2 separate regions of the Homo sapiens genome follow, and region 2 is linked to region 1. A link means that fine-mapping ties the variant in region 1 to the expression of a gene that starts in the linked region. Tissue or cell type: whole blood. Region 1 holds a variant in brackets; the other region holds the start of a gene. All regions are shown on one strand. Distances are between the middles of the regions.

Region 1 (10,944 bases):
AATTGCTTGTTTGCCACCCATTATGGTAGCCCAAGCTGACTAATACAGACTGCAGAGGAGATCACCGTTTATATGATCAGTTTAGGTGCTGGATCAGCCAGTAGCAGACAGTCAGCCCTCCATCCTCCCTCCCTTCACGTATGCAAAGCAACAAAAAACACTTGTTTTATTAGTCTGAAAATGTCTGAAACTATAAATACGGCTTACATTTCTTAGGCCACAGCAGACACAGCTTGGGGCTTCTGTCTGCCTTAGAGCAGTTCTTCCAAAGGCTGTGACTGTGCTGATGCCCTAACTCTTTTTTTATGAGGCACTTACACTTGGACTATGCTATGGTTTGGATGTTTGACCTCTCCAAGTCTCATGTTGAAATTTGCTCCCCAGTGTTGGAGGTGAGACCTAATGAGAGGTGTTTGGGTCATGGGGGCAGATCCCTCATGGATAGATTAACCCCCTCCCTTGTGGGTGAGTTCTCTGTTCCAATGAGAGCTGGTTGTTAAAAAGAGCCTGGCACCTCCCTTCCTTTCTCTTCCTTTTCTTGCCATGTGATCTCTGCACACACAAGCTCCCCTTTGCTTTCCACCATGAGTGGAAGCAGGTGTGAGGCCCTCATCAGATGCAGATGCCCAATCTTGGACTTTGCAACCATCAGAATCTTGAGCTATATAAACCTTTTTTTCTTTCTTCTTTTTTTTTTTTTTGAGACGGAGTCTCGCTCTGTCACCAGGCTGGAGTGCAGTGGTGCAATCTCGGCTCACTGCAACCTCCGCCTCCCCGATTCAAGGGATTCTCCTGCCTCAGCCTCCAGAGTAGCTGGGACTAACAGATGTGCACCACCACGCCCAGCTAATTTTTGTATTTTTAGTAGAAACGGGGTTTCACCATGTTGGCTAGGATAGTCTCAATCTCTTTACCTCGTGATCCATCAGCCTTGGCCTCCTAACGTGCTGTCATGAGCCACCCCACCCGGCCTAAATAAACCTTTTTTTCTTAATAAATTATCAGTCTCTGGTATTCTTTTATAACAATACAAAATGGAATAAGACAGAAAATTGGTACTGAGGAGTGGGGTATAGCTTTAACAATACCTAAACATGAGAAAGCAGCTTTGGAACTGGGTAATGGGCTGAGGTTGGAAGAGTTTGGAGGGCTCAGAATGTAACCAGACTTAGGTTCAGCTGCTGCTGCTCAAACACCAGACATTAGAGGCTAGGATTGGTGGGAGGAAAAGCAGGTTTAATTGGAGAGCCAGCAAACTTGAGAACATAGTGAACAAGCATTCGAAAGTACCATCTTTATTTTTTTCTTCAACTTTTATTTTAAGTTCCCGGGTAGATGTGCGGATGTGCAGATTTGTTACACAGGTAAACGTGTGCCATGGTAGTTTGCTGCACAGATCATTCCATCGCCTAGGTATTAAGCCCAGCGCCCATTAGCTGTTCTTCCTGATGCTCTCCGTCCCCTCAACCCCCATCCCCACAGGCCCTAGTGTGTTGTCCCCCACCATGTGTCCATGTGTTCTTATCATTCAGCTCCCACTTAAATTGAGAACATGTGGTGTTTGCTTTTTTTGTTCCTGCATTAGTTTGCTGAGGATAATGGCTTCCAGGTTCATCCATGTCCCTGCAAAGGACATGATCTCATTTTTTATGGCTGCATAGTATTGCATGGCGTATATGTACCACATTTTCTGTATCCAGTCTATCACTGATGGGCATTTAGGTTGATTCCATGTCTTTGCTATTGTGAATAGTGCTGCAATGAAAGTACCATCTTACATTTTAAAATTTACCATAGGATTTTTAAAGGGAAACTTGGAGACATGTGGAGGTGCAGGGTACAGGGTCTGTGTGTCTTGTTCCAGTGGTTATCTTGGGTAATGCCTGTCCAGACGTCTGGTTGGCATTATCTTGACTTTGGCCTGATAATGGTGGACTAATTGTTGGTTACTCCCTCCAAATGGGAGAATTCCTCAATGAGGGCTCTGTCCCTGATTTGTTTCAAGGTTAGCCTCTGGGATTTCTCAAGCAAGAGCCTAATTAGATAAGCATACATTGTGCTGAAAGGGAGTGTCTAGAGAGGGAAGGAAGAAAAAGAAAGTGGGTGATTTTTAACACCGAGGCCCCTGGTTACAAGAAGACAAAAAGATGAGGAATTTAGAGATTGGAAATTCTAAGAGGTTGGAACTTCTTACAGATTGATTAATTGGTTATGACCAAAATGCTGATAGAAATGTAGACAGTATGTCAAATGGGGACTTTTAAAAAATTAAAAAAAATTAAAAAAAAATATAGACAGTAAAGGCCATCTTGACAAGGTCTCAGGTGGAAATGAGGAACTTACTGGGAACTGAAGCAGAGATCACCCATGTTACAGCACAGCAAAGAACTTGGCTGCATTGTGTCCATGCCCTAGGGCTTTGTGGAAGACCAAACGTAAGAGTAATGACCTAGTGTAATTGACAGAAGAAATTTCTAAGCAGCAAAGCAATCGAGAAGTGTATGATTACTTTTAACAGCATATGTTGAATTGCAGCAGCAAAGGAATGACTTAAAGGCAGAATTTATCATTAAAAGCAGAGTGTAAAATATTGGAAAATTCTCAGCCTGGTCATGTAATAGAGAAGGAAAGAGCATATTCAGGAGAGGAATCCAAGGGTCAAGCTGGAGCCACAGGTTGCTAAAGAGTTTAGGGTGACAAAAAGGGATCTAGGTACTAATAGTCAAGACAGTGGGGAAAAGGCCACAAAGGCATTTCACAAATCGAAATTTCCGCTGGGCAGCCACCCCTCCCATCACAGGCCTAGGGGTATTAGGAGGACAGATTGGTTTTGGGGAACAGGACCAGGGCACCACTGCTCCTCACTGCTTCAGGATGCTGTTCCCAGGCTGTAGCAGCTGTGGCTCAAATGACCCCAGGAACCCCAGATAAGATTGGTGCTGCTGCTCCAGAGGGCACGAGGTGGAAGCCTTGGTGATATCCACGTGGTATTAATTCTGCAGGCCCACAGAATGCAAGAGCTATGGAGATGTGGCTTCCACTTAGATTTCAGAGGATTTATTGGAAAGCCTGGGTGCCCAAGCAAAAGCCTGCGGCAGAGTCAGACCCTTCACAGCCAGCCTCTGCGAGAGTAATGCCTGGTGGATTTGCAGGAGGGCCACTGCCTTCCAGCCCCCAGAATGATAGAGCCACCAGCAGTGTGTACCTTCAGCCTGGAAAAGCCTCTGGCATTTGACTCCACCTTATGAGAGCAGCCACATGGGCTGCACCCAGAAAAGCCACAGGGATGGGTCTGCTCAAGGCCTCAGGACCCACCAGTGTGCCCAGGTTGTGGGACATAGAGGAGATTATTTTGGAGTTTTAAGATTTAATGCCTGCCCTGCTGGGTTTTGGACACGCATGGGGCCTATTACCCTTTTCTTTTCACTGATTTCTCCCATTTGACATGGGAATGTTTGACATGGGAATGCCTGTATAACCATTGTATCTTGGAATGAAATAACTTGTTTTTTATTTTACATGCTCATAGCTGAAAGGAACTGTTCTTGAATCTCAGATGAGATTTTGGACTTTGGACATTTGAGTTGGTACTGGAACAACTTAAGACATTTGGGACCGTTGAGATGGATGATTGTACTTTACATGTGGGAAGGACATCAGTTTTGGGGGCCAGGGGTGGAATGCTATGGTTTGGAAATTCTTCCCCTCCAAACCTCATGTTGAAATTTGATCCCCAGGATTGGAGATGGGGCCTAATGGGAGGTGTTTGAGTCATGGGGGCAGACCTAGAGCTGTGGTTGGCCAAGTTCCCTGCTGTTGGGACTAAGCTGGCGTGAATGAAGAGAACAGATACAGATGCCCAGTGACTGGGGATGGGGGATGATGTTAACGTCTGGTTCTAGGCCTTCCTGACACAGTTCCATTCCTGTCTTTTCCACAGTTGGATGGTGATGTGACCCAATAGATCCTTTTTTGTTTTGAATCAAGTTTCTATCTCTTGCAACGAAAAATATGCTAAGTCAAGGAAGGGCTTTGTCCCTTGTTAAAATGTAAATATTTTTGGAAAGTGTATTGTGTTTTCTATCACTTCTGTAAGAAATTACCACAAACTTAGTAGCTTAAAGTAATACAAATTTATTTTATAATTCTGCAGGATAGAAGCGTGGTACAGGATTCACCATATCAGTGTTAGGAGCCTTAATTCTCCTTTCCATGTAACCTGATACACAGATTCCAAAGATCAAGATGTAGACATCTTTAGGGGACCATTATTCTGCATACCACAGATAGTGATATATTGTCTTATCCTGACTTTCGCAATTCCATTTGATTTGAGAGGAGTTTCTGACAGAAAGAAAAAGAAAAAAACAAAAAACAATGATGGGTGTCAGGAACTCCTGAGGAGTGGAAGATAGAAAGTAGGTTTAGGAAAAAAAAAAAGAAGTTGGTGACAGGGTCATTGACTATTAGACCATTCTGCCAAGGGCTGGAAGCAAAATATAATGCAAGAGAAGTGACTAATTGTGTCAAAGATGTAGATTATCAAGAGCCCCAGGTCTTTTTGCATATTAGGAGGCCATGTAACTTGAATCTTAATTACCCTAAGCCAATCATGGATAGTCCATCCTCCTTGCCAGTGTTTGGTGGAGGAATGTATGTGAAGCAGTTCTAACCTCTAAGATATTAGAAGAAGGGTTCTAGGGGGGTGGTCCTCTACCAAAAAAAAAAAAAAAAAAAAAGGTTTTTGCTCCTAGGAGAGAGAAAGACTCAAGGTGATAAAGAGTTCATCTTTCTTGAGGCTAATATAAAAAGTTGTTTTCACATAATTTATTTGCCAATTATTATTTTGAGACAAAGTCTTGCCTGTTGCCCAGTCTGGAATGCAGTGGCCGGATCTCAGCTCACTGCAACCTCCGCCTTCTGGGTTCAAGTGATTCTCATTCCTCAGCCTCCCAAGTAGCTGGGATTACAGGTACCCCACCACCTCCAGCTAATTTTTGTATTTTTAGTAGAGATGGGATTTCACCATGTTGGCCAGGCTGGTCTCGAACTCCTGACCTCAAGTGATCTGTCTGCCTTGGCCTCCCAAAGTGCTGGAATTACAGGCATGAGCCACTGTGCCTAGCCCAATTATTATTAAATGTCAATCTATATAAGACAACCAAAGTATTTCATAATATCAAGTATTTCATAAGGTGTTTTAGCTATAGCAATTATTATTTAACAGCTAAGAAATAGAGCAGTGTAAGAAAATAATATTTATAAAGTTATGAAATATCAATACTGATATTAAGGCTTCATTAGGCCAGATGTGGTGATCACACCTATAATCCCAGCACTTTGGGAGGCCCAGGCTAGAGAATTACTTGAGGCCAGGAATTTAAGACCAGCCTGTGCAACTCTATCTCTACAAAAAAATCCAAAAAATTACCTGGGCGTGGTGACACATGCCTGTAGTCCTAGCTACTCAAGAGGTTGGGGTGGGAGGGTCACTTGAGCCTAGGAGTTTGGGGCTGCAGTGAGCTATGATCATGCCACCACACTCCAGCCTGGGTGACAGAGTGAGACCCTCTCTCTCAAAAAAAAAAAAAAAGAAAAAAAAAGCTTCATTAACTATCACAGTAGTAAATAACACAACTTACCAATGTTTCACATTTGAAAGACTCTATATGAAATTAATTCTATTGTCAAGAAATTAAATGAGAGGAATTCTCATTTTTATTGAAGGTAATAAATAAAGCATCACCTAACATTATATACTAGTCGTTTTTCTTATTTATTTATTTATTTTCTCTTGAGACGGAGTCTCGCTCTGTTGCCCAGGCTGGAGTGCAGTGGTG[C/T]GATCTCTACTCACTGCAAGCTCCACCTCCCGGGTTCACACCATTCTCCTGCCTCAGCCTCCTGAGTAGCTGGGACTACAGGAGCCCGCCACCACGCCCGGCTCATTTTTTGTATTTTTAGTAGAGACAGGGTTTCACCGTGTTAGCCAGGATGGCCTCGATCTCCTGACCTCGTGATCTGCCCGCCTTAGCCTCCCAAAGTGCTGGGTTTACAAGCGTGAGCCACCGTGTCTGGCCTTTTTTTTTTTTTTTTTTTTTTTCTGAGACGGGATTTTGCTCTTGTTGCCCAGACTGGAGTGCAGTGGCGCGATCTTGGCTCACTGCAACCTCTGCCTCCTGGGTTCAAGCGATTCTCCCGCCTCAGCCTCCTGAGTAGCTGGGATTACAGGCATGTGCCACCACGCCTGGCTAATTTTGTATTTTTAGTAGAGATGGGGTTTCTACATGTTGGTCAGGCTGGTCTCGAACGCCCGACCTCAGGTGATCTCCCCCGCCTTGGCCCCCCAAAGTGCTGGGAATACAGGTGTGAGCCACCACACCCGGCCAAGATATACTAGTCCTTTTACAAAAGAAGACATGTATGTGGCCAAAAAGCCTATGAAAAAAAGGTCGGTATCACTGATCATTAGAGAAATGCAAATCAAAACCACAGTGAGGTAATATCTCACACCAGTTAGAATAGCTATTACTAAAAAACGAAAAAAATAACAGATGCTGGTGAGGTTGTGGAGAAAGGAGAACATTTATACACTGTTAGTGGGAGTGTAAATTAGGTTCAGCCATTGTGGAAAGTAGTGTGGTGACTCCTCTAAGAGCTAAAAACAACTATCATTTGACCCAGCAGTCCCATTACTGGGTATACATATACCCAAAGGAATATAAATCATTTTACCATAAAGACACATGCCTGCAAATGTTCATTGCAGCACTATTCACAATAGTAAAGACATGGGATCAACCTAAATGTCTGTCAATGACGGATTGCAAAAAGAGAATGTGGTACACATACATCATGGGATACTATGCAACCTTAAAAAGGAGTGAGATCATGTCTTGTGGGAACATGGATGGAGCTGAAGGCTATTATTCTTAGCAAACTAATGCAGGAAGAGAAAACCAAATACTGCATGTTTTCACTTATAAATGGAAGCTAAATTCTGAGAATCCATGAACACAAGGGAGCAACAAACACTTTAGGGTGGAGGGTTGGAGGAGGGAGAGGAGCAGAAAAAATAACTATTGGGGCCAGGTGCAGTGGCTCACACCTGTGACCCCAGCATTTTGAGAGGCCAAGGCGGGTGGATCACTTGAGGTGAGGAGTTCAAGACCAGCCTGGCCAAAATGGCAAAACCCCGTCTCTACTAAAAGTATAAAAATTAGCCAGGCATGGGTGTGCATGCTTGTAATTCCAGCTACTCTGGAGGCTGAGACATGAGAATTGCTTAAACCCAGGAGGCAGAGGCTGCAGTGGGCTGAGATCATGCCACTGCACTCCAGCCTGTGCAACAGAGCGAGACTCTGCTTAAAACAAACAAAAAACACTGTTGGGTACTAGGCTTAATGCCTGGGTAATGAAATAATCTGTTCAACACACCCCCATGACACAAATTAACCTGTATATCAAACCTGCACATGTACCCCTGAACCTAAAATAAAGGTTGAAAAACAAAAACAATATAGTAGTCTTTAGTAAAATTGGGGTATATAAATTATAAAAATTCAAGAAAAGAAGAAGTTGTGACACAAATTTTATGGACTATATAGCAATGAACATAAAAATATGGCCAACAGAACTGTCTTCTTAAAATCCGGGGCATCGTCATACAGTCTTTAACTCTGAATTGAATTTCGATGTTATTTTGAAGTTGTGAGTCATAGACTGTTAAACTCGTACTGGGGCCCTCTGAGTTAAAAGATAATATTTTTGTGGGGGCCTCACTGGACGGGTGTTGAGCATCCTGCTCAAACCTCCAGTGAATATTGCAGATCCCAACTGGCCGCCTCCTAAGGGTGTTCTGAGCTGGTTTAGGAAGAGTCACTGCAAATTGTGCCACGTTGGATACACAAGATTGCCAACATTTCAACTTTTACCTTTGAAATTCAAAACAGACCACAAGATTGTATACCTACAAGTACCTACAGAGGTTCTCGTTGGGAAATCTGAAGTACCAGCACTGTATCCATCAGCCTTAATAGACTGTAGTTAATTATTACCCACTCCCCAACCTTTGTTCAGTGGCATTTAAAAGTCAGGCTGAGCATGTATAATCTGTGAACACTTTCAGCAGAGACTTGTGAAATACATCTTTCATTTGAAAGTTCACAGACAAACTTTTGTTTCTAGTTCTTTCCTGGACAGATAAATACATAAAAGTGGTACTTGTGGTTTCCCGAAGGTGTGTTTCTGCAGCCCTTCTCTAACCCTTTATAGCTTTTCCCTCCTCACACCTTGACCATCAAGGAAATGAGTCGTACCTTCTTCCCTGTCGAGAGAACACAGGCCCTCCTTGTGCGCGGGCAGACATTTGAGATTAGAGCTTTACTAGTTGTATGATTTTTTGAAAACTTTATTTACTGTTAAATATGATACGAATACAGAAATCCACATGAGACAAATGTACAGCTTGAGTTATTAAAGGGCAACTACCTTGCAACTGGCATCCATGTCAGGAGAGAATACCTTGCCAACTACCCCAGACACCCTCCACATGTATCTCCTAAACCCTTATCGATAACCTCTGTCTTCACTATGGGGATTATTTTCTTTCTCTTGGATATTATCCACCTGTATTATGAGCATCCTGTGGCTGCTGTAAAAAATTAAACTAGATGGCAACAGAAATGTGTTCTTTCAAAGTTCTGGAGCCCAGAGGTCTGAATTTGAGGTGCCAGCAGGGCTGCACCCCTGGGGGACCTAGGGAAGAATCCATTCTTTTCCAGCCTCCTGTGGTTGCTGGCATTCCTTGACTTGTGGCCACATCACTCCAATCTCTGCTCCCTGGTCACATTGTCTCCTCCTCTTCCATCTGTGTCAAATCTCCCTCTGCCTAACTCTTATAAGGACACTTGTTGTTGGATTTAGGGCCACCAGGATAATCTAGGATGACTTTCTTTTCTTTTCTTTTCTTTTTTGAGGTGGAGTCTCGCTCTGTTGCCAGGCTGGAGTGCAGTGGCAAGATCTCACCTCAATGCAACTTCCGCCTCCTGGGTTCAAGTGATTCTCGTGCCTCAGCCTCCAGAGTAGCTAGGATTACAGGCACGTGCCATCACACCCGGGTAATTTTTGTATTTTTTTTGTACAGATGGGGTTTCACCATGTTGGCCAGGATGGTCTCGATCTCCTGACCTCGTGATCCACCCGCCTTGGCCTCCCAAAGTGTTGGGATTACAGGCGTGAGCCACCACACCTGGCCTCTAGGATGATTTTCTTAAGATCCTTAATTACATCTACAAAGATCCTTTTTCCAATTAAGGTAACATTCATAGGTTCCAGGTAGTAGGACGTGGTCATATTTGCATTCAACTCACTACATCACCCAACTGTAAATCTCTAAACACTGTATTTAGCTTTGCTTTGTCTTTTAGCTCTCTTATTTTATAAATTCCTTGTCCATCTCTTCTTTATTTCAACTCCTGGCAGTGTATTTGTTGAAGAACCTTGATCATATATCCTACTTTTTCAATGTTGGTATTTTACTGATTCATGTTGTGTAGATTAGCACATTCCTCTGTTCTCTGTATGTCCTATATGTTGATACTTAGATCTAGAGGCCTAATCAGATTCAGGTTTGATTTTGTTTTTGTCAAGACTACTTCATAGGTGATGATGTGTTTGACAAAAGATACCTAACATTTGGGCCAGGTGTGGTGGCTCACGCCTGTAATCCCAGCACTTTGCGAGGCTGGGATCACTTGAGGTCAGGAATTCGAGACCATCCTGGCCAACATGGTGAAACCCCATCTCTACTAAAAATACAAAAAAATTAGCCAGGCATGGTGGCGGGCACCTGTAATCCCAGCTACTCAGTAGGCTGAGGCACAAGAATCGCTTGAACCTGGGAGGTAGAGGTTGCAGTGAGTCGAGATGGTGCCGCTGCACTCCAGCCTGGACAACAGAGTGATACTCTATCTCAAAAAAAAAAAAAAAAAAAACCTAACGTCTGGTTATCTGTGATGTTAGCAGCTGTAGATGCTCAATCCTAGATCCTTAATTCATTAAGGGTTGCAAAATGGTGATTTCCAATGCTATTGTCTCTTCCTTTTTTTTTTTTTTTTTGAGATAGAGTCTCGCTCCGTCGCCCAGGCTGGAGTGCAGTGGCACGATCTCAGCTCACTGCAAGCTCCACCTCCTGGGTTCACGCCATTCTCCTGCCTCAGCCTCCTGAGTAGCTGGGACTACAGGCGCTCGCCACCACGCCTGGCTAATTTTTTGTATTTTTAGTAGAGATGGGGTTTTACCGTGTTAGCCAGGATGGTCTTGATCTCCTGACCTCGTGATCTGCCCGCCTCGGCCTCCCAAAGTGCTGGGATTACAGGCATGAGCCACCGCGCCTGACCGCTGTTGTCTCTTCTTGGTCTATTTGTTTAAATACTTCTATAAAAAGAGACATTCCCTCATTTACTAGTTGTTTACTCAGAGTTACAGTTTGTGTAGGAAAGGCAGGTTAAATGCTTGATTCTTCCCTTTATTTACTAGTTTGCAAAATAGTTGTTAGCGTCCTCCAAAGATGATTTATTAGGTTTATTTATTTATTTTTTTGAGACAGGAAGTCTCGCTCTGTAGCTAGGCTGGAGTACAGTGGCATGATCTTGGCTCACTGCAACCTCCGCCTCCCGGGTTCAAACGACTCTCCTGCCTCAGCCTTCCGAGTAGCTGGGACTACAGGCGTGCACCACCACGCTCAGCTAATTTTTCTTGTATTTTTAGTAGAGGTGGGGTTTCACCATGTTGGCCAAGATGGTCTCAATCTCTAGACCTCGTGATCCGCCCGCCTTGGCCTCCCAAAGTGCTGGGATTACAGGTGTGAGCCACCGTGCCCGGCCGGTTAGGTTTTTAAAAAAATCATTATTTAATCATTTTTAAATCATTAATTTAAACATTTTT
Region 2 (9,294 bases), 26 kb before region 1:
TGATTTTTTTAGACGGAGTTTTGCTCTTGTCACCCAGGCCGAAGTGCAATGGCACAATCTTGGCTCACTGCAACCTCCGCCTCCCAGGTTCAAGTGATTCTCCTGCCTCAGTCTCTGAGTAGCTGGGATTACAGGCACCCACCACTACGCCTGGCTAGTTTTTGTATTTTTAGTAGACACAGGGTTTCACCATGTTGGCCAGGCTGGTCTCGAACTCCTGACCTCAGGTGATCCGCCTACCTTGGCCTCCCAAAGTGCTGGAATTACAGGCGTAAGCCACCATGCCCAGCCATTTCACATTTTATTTGCGGTATTGTCACTTTTTATTTCCATGCCATACTTTCATCCTTGTTGGTCAATACCCTTTCTCAATCACCCATTTTTGTAAAATGTCACATGGGTTTTTTACTAGCAGACAAGGAGACAATGCAACTGCAAGCCTTACTGTCTGTATGTGAACTGACAGATGCACAGAGATCAATCACTGACAGACTTTGAAAGAAGATACATGATTGGTCACTGATCAGGATGCGCATTTGTTAATGTAGTAATTCATGGACCTGAGGAGCTAGCAGCAAATTTGTATTTTATGCAGTTACTCAGAGTTAATTTACTTCAGTAACTGAAATTTGAAACCTTGTTCTCAGGGGACAGGTGTTATTTAACTAAACCATGGTAACTAAAATTCATACATATTGGAACCATTCAAAGAAAGCATTTTTGGCCAGGCCAAAAAAAAGAAAGACTTTTCTGTATGGTTTTATACTGAATATCTTTTATTAATCTCTTAACCTTCTCTGTGACAAAAATGTGTATAAATTACAATTTGTATGTCCTTGATGGTTTTATATCTTTGGTTATTTTACAAATCCTGGTCTAATTAATATTATAATTATTATTATAATTAATTAAACATAAATATGTTTAAATCAAAAGTAAAAAATTATTAAAAATTATTTCAATCTGATGAATAGGGCTACTTTCATTTAGAGTATGAAGTCAAGTAGTGCTTACTGCTGGAATGAGACAGTATTTAGGTTCAATAATGTTCCTGCTTAACATTTCTATAGACATAATCGCTGAGAAAACATGTTCACAGAGACAAATAGGTAAGAATGAGATAAATTTTATCATAGTGGCCGGGCGCGATGGCTCATGCCTGTAATCCCAGCACTTCGGGAGGCTGAGACAGGTGGATCACCTGAGGTCAGGAGTTCAAGACCAGCCTAGCCAACATGGCAAAACCCCATCTCTACTAAAAATACAAAAATGAACTGGGCGTGGTAGCATGCACCTATAGTCCAGCTAATCAGGAGGCTGAGGGAGGAGAATCTCTTGAACCTGGGAGGCAGCAGTTGCAGTGAGCCAAGATTACACCATTGCACTCCAGCCTGGGTGACAGAGTAAGACTCCGTCTCAAAAAAAAAAAAACAAACAAAAAACCTTTTTTATAGTAATGCCATTCATTTTGTCATTCCCTCCAAATTATTTGCCAAAAATCCTCTTTCACTTTTGCTGGAAACCAGGAATTGGAAACCTGTGACTTGCAAAAGCATTTTTACCTAGTTATTAGAATGTTCACTTTCTTATTTTACAGGAAACATACCAAAAAAGGTTTTACCAAGACACATCGGCTGCAGGGCAGCCACAGATACCTGCGTTGGTTGTGTACTATACAACTCCTGAGAGCAGTGTTTACACTGTACTCTACTTAAGTTGCATGAGCTGGAATTGTGCAGTGCACAATTTGCAAAGCTGTATGTGGTAGCCTTATACATTTTACCTACTATTGTTTTTTATTTTGAGACGGAGTCTCACTCTGTCGCCCAGGCTGGAGTGCTATGGCGCAATCTTGGCTCACTGTAACCTCCGCCTCCCAGGTTCAAGAGATTCTCCTGCCTCAGCCTCCTGAGTGGCTGGGATTATAGGCGTATACCACCACACCTGGCTAATTTTTGTATTTTTAGTAGAGATGGGGTTTCACCATGTTGGTCAGGATGGTCTTAAACTCCTGACCTCATGATCTGCCTGCCTCGGTCTCCCAAAGTGCTGGGATTACAGGCGTGAGCCAATGGGCCTGGCCTTTTTTTTTTTTTTTTAACTTGGCAGCAACTTGTTTAATCCAGTATGTAAATGAAGTATACAAAATGTTCTATCTATGCCCATCATCTACACACATTGTTAATGATATCACAGCATATCAAACATTTAATGGCATGGCTGTACTTAGTGGAAAGATGTACTAATAAGGTAAAAATTATAAATAAAATCATTATTTTTAGAACTCGGAGTCCTTTGAAAGCTGAAGTGTGATGTCAATAAGTCATCTAACTCCATGCCAAGCTTAGTATCTGCCAAATCATTTATGTCTCATTTCCATGGCAGCACTTTATTTCTTTAAGACTTGGAACCACAGATGGCACATCTGTTTTCTTGAACGGTATCATTAATTTATTTGATTTATGAATGCTAATTATATGTTTCTGAATGCATCAAATCTATCAGCATTTGCAATGGTCTCTTTGATAAGCACATGGTAAAGAGGAACTATGCCAGGCAATACCCTTCAGGACCTGCTCTTCTCTTAGCAAAGTGAAGCAGTATAATAGTCTAATATGTAATATACACTGATATACACTTTTAAGTAGTAATTCACAACCAGGGAACATCACGAAATGAAAGCAAGAGTTTTAGTTGGTTCATGCAGCCATCTGAAATAACTGCATAAATGAGAATATAGTGAATTCTATTATTCATGAATCATTTATTATTACATGTAGTTATGATTCCAGAAGCCCTTACTCCAAGTTAGATGGAGCCTATATTTTTTTATACATCAAACTTGGCAAACAGTAATTATAGCTGCAAAAACAGCCATCTCTACACTTCAGTGACAAAAATGGAGAGAAGTCTCCTTCAATCAGTCACAATTGTGTCCTTGAATGGCAACAGTGACAACAGCATCACTATCAGTTATGAAGGGCAAGCTATAATTACTATTAACTATGAAGTTCATAATTTCTGAAGAAATGTTAAGAAGATGCTAATTTCCAAATTAAGGTTGTGATGCAGAATTAAGTGTAAATATTCTTTCATTATAGTAGCTAACATTTATATATCAAGTCCTAAGTGCTTCATTATTAATTTGTCTTTCCAATAACCTTAGGTTAGGTTGAGAAAGTATCCATGTTGTCTGTGTTTTACAGATCTGAAGACGAAGGATCAGAGAAGTTTAGTAATTTGTGAGAGGCTATATGTTGGATAAGTGGCAGAGATGAGCCTTAAGCCCGAAACTAAATCTCATATGCTTTCCTTTTCTAACTATACTGTTTACCAGATGTTGGGATGTTAAACTTTCATCCTTCTTCCTTTTGGGTCCAACACATTCTCTTATTTGTCCATAAGAATCACCTGCTGCCCTTGATTAGAATGCAGATCCCTAGGTCTCCACCCCGCAGACGTCTGTGCGTGGGGTGTGGTAGTTGTGGGGGCTGCATAACCAGCATCTTACATAATTCAATTAAGATGATCTGACTTGTGGAATTAAACTAAAACCCACCCACAGGAGAACCAACAGATGCTATTTATTCAGAGTTTGCTGTAGAAGGGAGTCCCACTCACCATCACTTTGTCAGAGGCTCAAAGGTGGGGCAGACGAGTGGGAAAGCTTTATAGAAGTGAAGAAAAGCCCCCGGTATGCTCTGATTGGAAGTTGTTGGCATGGGAAAGCTGCAGGTGGGCTACTAGAAGCGGGGGTATTTTATGTGATGGGTTTGCGGAACATATTTGGCTTTCTCTGGTTGGTGCAGAGGTGGAACTAGGGGTAAAAATAGGGAAGTTGCACTTTGGAAGTCCCAGGCAGGAAGATCGCTTGAGTCCAGGAGTTTGAGACCAGCCTGGGCAACATAGTGAGACCCTGTCATGAAAAAATATTTAAAATTTTTCAAAAATTGCACATCTGTAGTCGTAGGTACTTGGGAGGTTGAGGCAGAGGATCTCTTGAGACCAGGAGATCGAGGCTGCAGTGAGCTAAGATCGTGCGACTACATTCCAGGCTGGGCAACATAGCAAGACCCTGTCTCAAAAAAGAAAAAAAATAGGGAAATTGCCAGTCGTTGACTACTTCCTGACTGTTCTGGTTCAGCTGCTACCAAGGTTGTGGTCTGGCTTCCTGGGCTTCTTATGTGGTTCAGAGTTCTGTTGTCACATACTATCTGGCCATTCATGTATATTGCGTTTCTGAGACCATACTCTGGGAAACACATGGTCCTCTGGTGGTGGTGAAGGTCCCTGTGAGCTAGGGACCATCTGTCAACACTCTTATCACTACTAGTGTCTATCCCTATCAGGCACTAGAAGCACTTAATAAAATCTTGCGAATGAATGAATGAATGATATACAAAAATATTTGATACTGGCTTTAGTTGGAACAAGAAAATGAACTTTGTGTACCACATAGACATCTGTGACTAGAGTGGCCGTCACCAGAAAGGCTGCTCCTTCCAGCTGCTATGCTCTAAATACAATAACCTGAATCTTAGCACGACTGGACTTCGCCTGGACTTCGCCTTGGCCCCGGCTGCCCAAAGTTTCTCTCAAAGCTTCAGCTTAACCCCTGATGTGCTCACCAGCACCAAGGCGCCCTCCTGAGTGCTTTGCTGGGGGTGGGATGGCGTTTGTGGGAAAGGCCGGCTACTTCTGGCATTTCAACGGCGCCTCCAATCCCTGACCTTTAGTTGTGCCCCATTCTCTCCACTCTTTCCCCCTTCTCTGTCCTCACGATTGAGTCTGGGCTGGCGAAGCCTACTGAGGGAGGGGAGTGTACACACATGCACACGCGCGCGCGCGCACACACACACACACACACACACACTCATATATGGTGTTATTAATAATTCAGGACTCAGAGTTTATCTAAGAGAAGACGCTCGACCGGGTGTGAGAGAGCGCGCGGGACAGAGAGCGAGCCAAGGAAGGGGAAGGCGGCGGCGCGCGCTGTCTCCTGGGGAAGCAGTCCCACCTGCTGTGGGGGGCGCCGCTGGGGAGGGGCCGAGCCGTGCTCACGCCTGCACGCCCCGCCCCGCTCGCCGCACGGCCCGGCGACGGGGGAGTTCCCGCGAGTGGCCTCGCGCCCAGACCGTGCGGGGGGCTGTTCGGGTGGAGGCGGGGGAGCCGCCGGGACACCAAAATAGGAGCTGCTTGTGGGGTGGAGCGGCACTAGCTGGCGGCTTCCGAGCGCCTCTTCCAAAGATGGTCAGAGGGGCCGGAGGCGTCCCCGCTCCCGCTCGCTACTAGCCCGCGGGCCAGCGCCGCGTCCCGAGCCCCGGCGGGAGGTAGGTGCGGTGTGGACCCGCAGCCCGAGGCCGGCCTGCTGGGAGCGAGCGGGGCCGGGCGCGGGGAGCGGGGCCGGGCGCGGGCAGCGGGGCCGGGCGCGGGCAGCGAGGCCGCGCGGGAGAGGAGCGCAGACAATGGCCGCGCGGGCGCCGGGCCGGGCCGAACGCGTTGCGCTGGGGCTGCCTGCGGCGTCCTTCCCACACCTGCGCGGAGCGCCGGGCAGAGGGACGCGGGCACCGGGCCCGCGGGCGGCACGCGGCGCCCTCGAGTCCAGCCCCGCTCCTGGCCCCGGGGCGGGGCGGTCTCCGGGCGGGAACGTGGGCCGGGGCCCAGGCGCGGGGCGCGCGGAAACCCCTGCGGCGGGCGCGGGGGAGGGGGCGAGGGCTGCAAGGGCTGCGCCGAGCTGCCTTCCTTTCTCTCCTTCCTTAAGCGAAAGGGCTCGGGATTTCCCTTTTCCGAGACCTCTTCTTGTCCATTTATATTTCCATCATCCCTTTCTTGGCATTTCGATGTGATTTGAAAGGGAGACGAGCTTGGGGAAAAGGTTGAATTGGGGCCGAGCCGAGACAGCTGAGGTCCGGCCTCGAGTGGGGTGACCCTCGGACACTTGCCTTGCCTAGTGTGGGATCTCATCTCCGAACGCCAGGCCAGGGTAGATTGCGGTGAATGGAATAGCAAATCAGTACTCTCAAAAGGACTACTGAAAAATCCAGGAGCCTCATTTCAAGCTCCGAGCTACCCTGAATTTAAATTGACCACCATATAAATGATCAAACAGTCCATCCACATTTTGCATTTATTATTTAGATGCTGAACTTAGTCCAGTTTTGGAGTATATCCGATGATAGTCAAGTTATTTAGCGTTGATTATTTGAGAGAATGTGCAACATTGAAAACACATTTGTTATTTCATATTTATTGCAGCCATGGCTCTAAAAGGACAAGAAGATTATATTTATCTTTTCAAGGATTCAACACATCCAGTGGATTTTCTGGATGCATTCAGAACATTTTACTTGGATGGATTATTTACTGATATTACTCTTCAGTGTCCTTCAGGCATAATTTTCCATTGTCACCGAGCCGTTTTAGCTGCTTGCAGCAATTATTTTAAGGCAATGTTCACAGCTGACATGAAAGAAAAATTTAAAAATAAAATAAAACTCTCTGGCATCCACCATGATATTCTGGAAGGCCTTGTAAATTATGCATACACTTCCCAAATTGAAATAACTAAAAGAAATGTTCAAAGCCTGCTTGAGGCAGCGGATCTGCTACAGTTCCTTTCAGTAAAGAAGGCTTGTGAGCGGTTTTTGGTAAGGCACTTGGATATTGATAATTGTATTGGAATGCACTCCTTTGCAGAATTTCATGTGTGTCCAGAACTAGAGAAGGAATCTCGAAGAATTCTATGTTCAAAGTTTAAGGAAGTGTGGCAACAAGAAGAATTTCTGGAAATCAGCCTTGAAAAGTTTCTCTTTATCTTGTCCAGAAAGAATCTCAGTGTTTGGAAAGAAGAAGCTATCATAGAGCCAGTTATTAAGTGGACTGCTCATGATGTAGAAAATCGAATTGAATGCCTCTATAATCTACTGAGCTATATCAACATTGATATAGATCCAGTGTACTTAAAAACAGCCTTAGGCCTTCAAAGAAGCTGCCTGCTCACCGAAAATAAGATCCGCTCCCTAATATACAATGCCTTGAATCCCATGCATAAAGAGATTTCCCAGAGGTCCACAGCCACAATGTATATAATTGGAGGCTATTACTGGCATCCTTTATCAGAGGTTCACATATGGGATCCTTTGACAAATGTTTGGATTCAGGGAGCAGAAATACCAGATTATACCAGGGAGAGCTATGGTGTTACATGTTTAGGACCCAACATTTATGTAACTGGGGGCTACAGGACGGATAACATAGAAGCTCTTGACACAGTGTGGATCTATAACAGTGAAAGTGATGAATGGACAGAAGGTTTGCCAATGCTCAATGCCAGGTATTACCACTGTGCAGTCACCTTGGGTGGCTGTGTCTATGCTTTAGGTGGTTACAGAAAAGGGGCTCCAGCAGAAGAGGCTGAGTTCTATGATCCTTTAAAAGAGAAATGGATTCCTATTGCAAACATGATTAAAGGTAAGTGGAGATTATGTTTATTTTGTATTTTTTAGATGTCTGGAGCTAGGCCAGCAGTCTCACTTCTCTTGAATTTATCACTTTGGGATGCTATCTAGGAACTATAGTTAATTATACAAATAATGCTACACAGAATGTTCCAGATAAAAACAGTATAGCATAGTTCCCAACTTGTCTGAGAGTTATGAGAATTTATATTCAAGTCAAGGGCTAGATGAAGAGACAAATCTGGACAGTTTTTCATTTTTTCATGTTCTTAAAATTGAACCCTTTAAAATTCTGCTATTCAACTTTTTCCTCTCAAAATACGCTGATCAGCTCTCAAGAGGTCCTTCATTAAAACCTTGGAAGGTTTGGTCCCTACAGGATGTAACAAAGTACATTCTTCCAGGAACTAGAGACAACGTCTGCTTTTGCAATTCAGTCCTCTCTGAGAGGGGCAGACACCATACTCTCCCTCATGTGGCCCACAGAACCCGGCACACCCCTGGGTCTCGGTATCTGTCTGATAAACACTATTTTCTGCTGTGTTTGGCGATTTGTTTGCCTTGCTCTCCTTCTCTCCCACTGGAAAAAAAGTTAAACGGGAATCTTATTTCATTGTATTTATTCATTGGTGCTGAGGAGTTGTACAAAAACAACTGGTAGGTCGTTACCAAATTTGTATCATTTTGTCCCAAATGTTTCTTCCCAGGCTTTTCTGTTTCTTTTTTAATGCTAGTGAGAGTGTGGGAATTTGACCTGGTCTGGAAATCTGACCTGGTATGATCCTTGGATGACAGGCAGGAAGCTGAGAGGCAGAACAGTCTTGGGATCAGGCACGCTGCCTCTGAAGCTAAACTGCCTGCATCCAGATCCCTGCTTTCCTCTTACTTGCTGATGAGCTCTGGCAAATTGTTTAATCACCCTGTGCCCCCGTTTTGTCATCTGTATAATGGGGATGACAATATTACCTAGTCTCGGATCATTGAGAGGATTAAATTAATCTATGCTTGTGAAGTGCCTAGAACAGTGTCTGACACAGAGTAAGCATGCTATAAATGTTACGCATGATTGTCCTGAATGTCGGTATTGAAGGACATGTCAGCTCTTATAGAGCAGAAATTGATTTCATGTGAAGTTGTGACCACTGTCACACCAGGGTGGGAGAAGGTAGCAGAAAGCCCGGTGCTGTTGCTCCCCTGGTTTTTGTCTTTGCCTGAGTCTCACCACTACTTGCCGATTCCAGGAGGGCTCTGAATGTCCTGACCCCTCTTCTGCAAAAGAAATAAGAAAAGTCCATATATTTAAGGAGCTATTGTAAACTAGCATACATTTCTGATTCTGTTTTTTAAGGATGATATAACAGTTTCAATGGTTTTGTGGTTCAGAGTATATTTCTTTTTCTTTTTCTTTTTTTTTTTTTGAGATGGAGTCTCACTCTGTCTCCCAGGCTGGAATGCAGTGGCGTGATCTTGGCTCACTGCAACCTCTGCCTCCCGGGTTCAAGCAGTTCTCCTGCCTCAGCCTCCTGAGTAGCTGGGATTACAGGCATGTGCCACCACACCTAGGTAATTTTTGTATTTTTAGTAGAGACGGGGTTTCACCATGTTGGCCAGGCTGGTCTTGAACTCCTGACCTCAAGTGATCCCCCCACCTTGGCCTCCCAAAGTGCTGGGATTACAAGGGTGGGTTCAGAGTATATTTCTTTGAGAATGAAAGCTTATTACTTTACTGAAATTTTAAAAATTTATATTTAGAACAGTGCTTGTTGAAAAAAGATATGCTGCGATGGTGTATCTACTGTGAAACAAAAGCCATATGCATGCTTGCGTTAACCTT

Evidence for each region. PIP is the estimated chance that this variant, and not a neighbour inherited with it, causes the effect.
Region 2: it holds the start of KLHL23, and the variant in region 1 is fine-mapped to the expression of KLHL23 in whole blood (TOPMed, PIP above 0.99).

What each region holds. Positions count from the first base shown.
Region 1 is chr2:169,753,693-169,764,636 of GRCh38, forward strand. No RefSeq gene overlaps it. Among named protein-coding and RNA genes, the nearest start is that of KLHL23, 25 kb to the left of the region's middle. The variant C/T (reference allele first, on the strand shown) is at 5,841.
Region 2 is chr2:169,728,755-169,738,048 of GRCh38, forward strand. It overlaps KLHL23 (kelch like family member 23), which reads left to right and starts at 5,078. Exons shown (of 4, transcript NM_144711.6): 1 at 5,078-5,333; 2 at 6,259-7,473. The coding sequence starts at 6,261. All of the region lies in intron 3 of PHOSPHO2-KLHL23 (PHOSPHO2-KLHL23 readthrough), which reads left to right. RefSeq lists silencers at 4,949-5,388, 5,409-5,478, 5,589-5,768.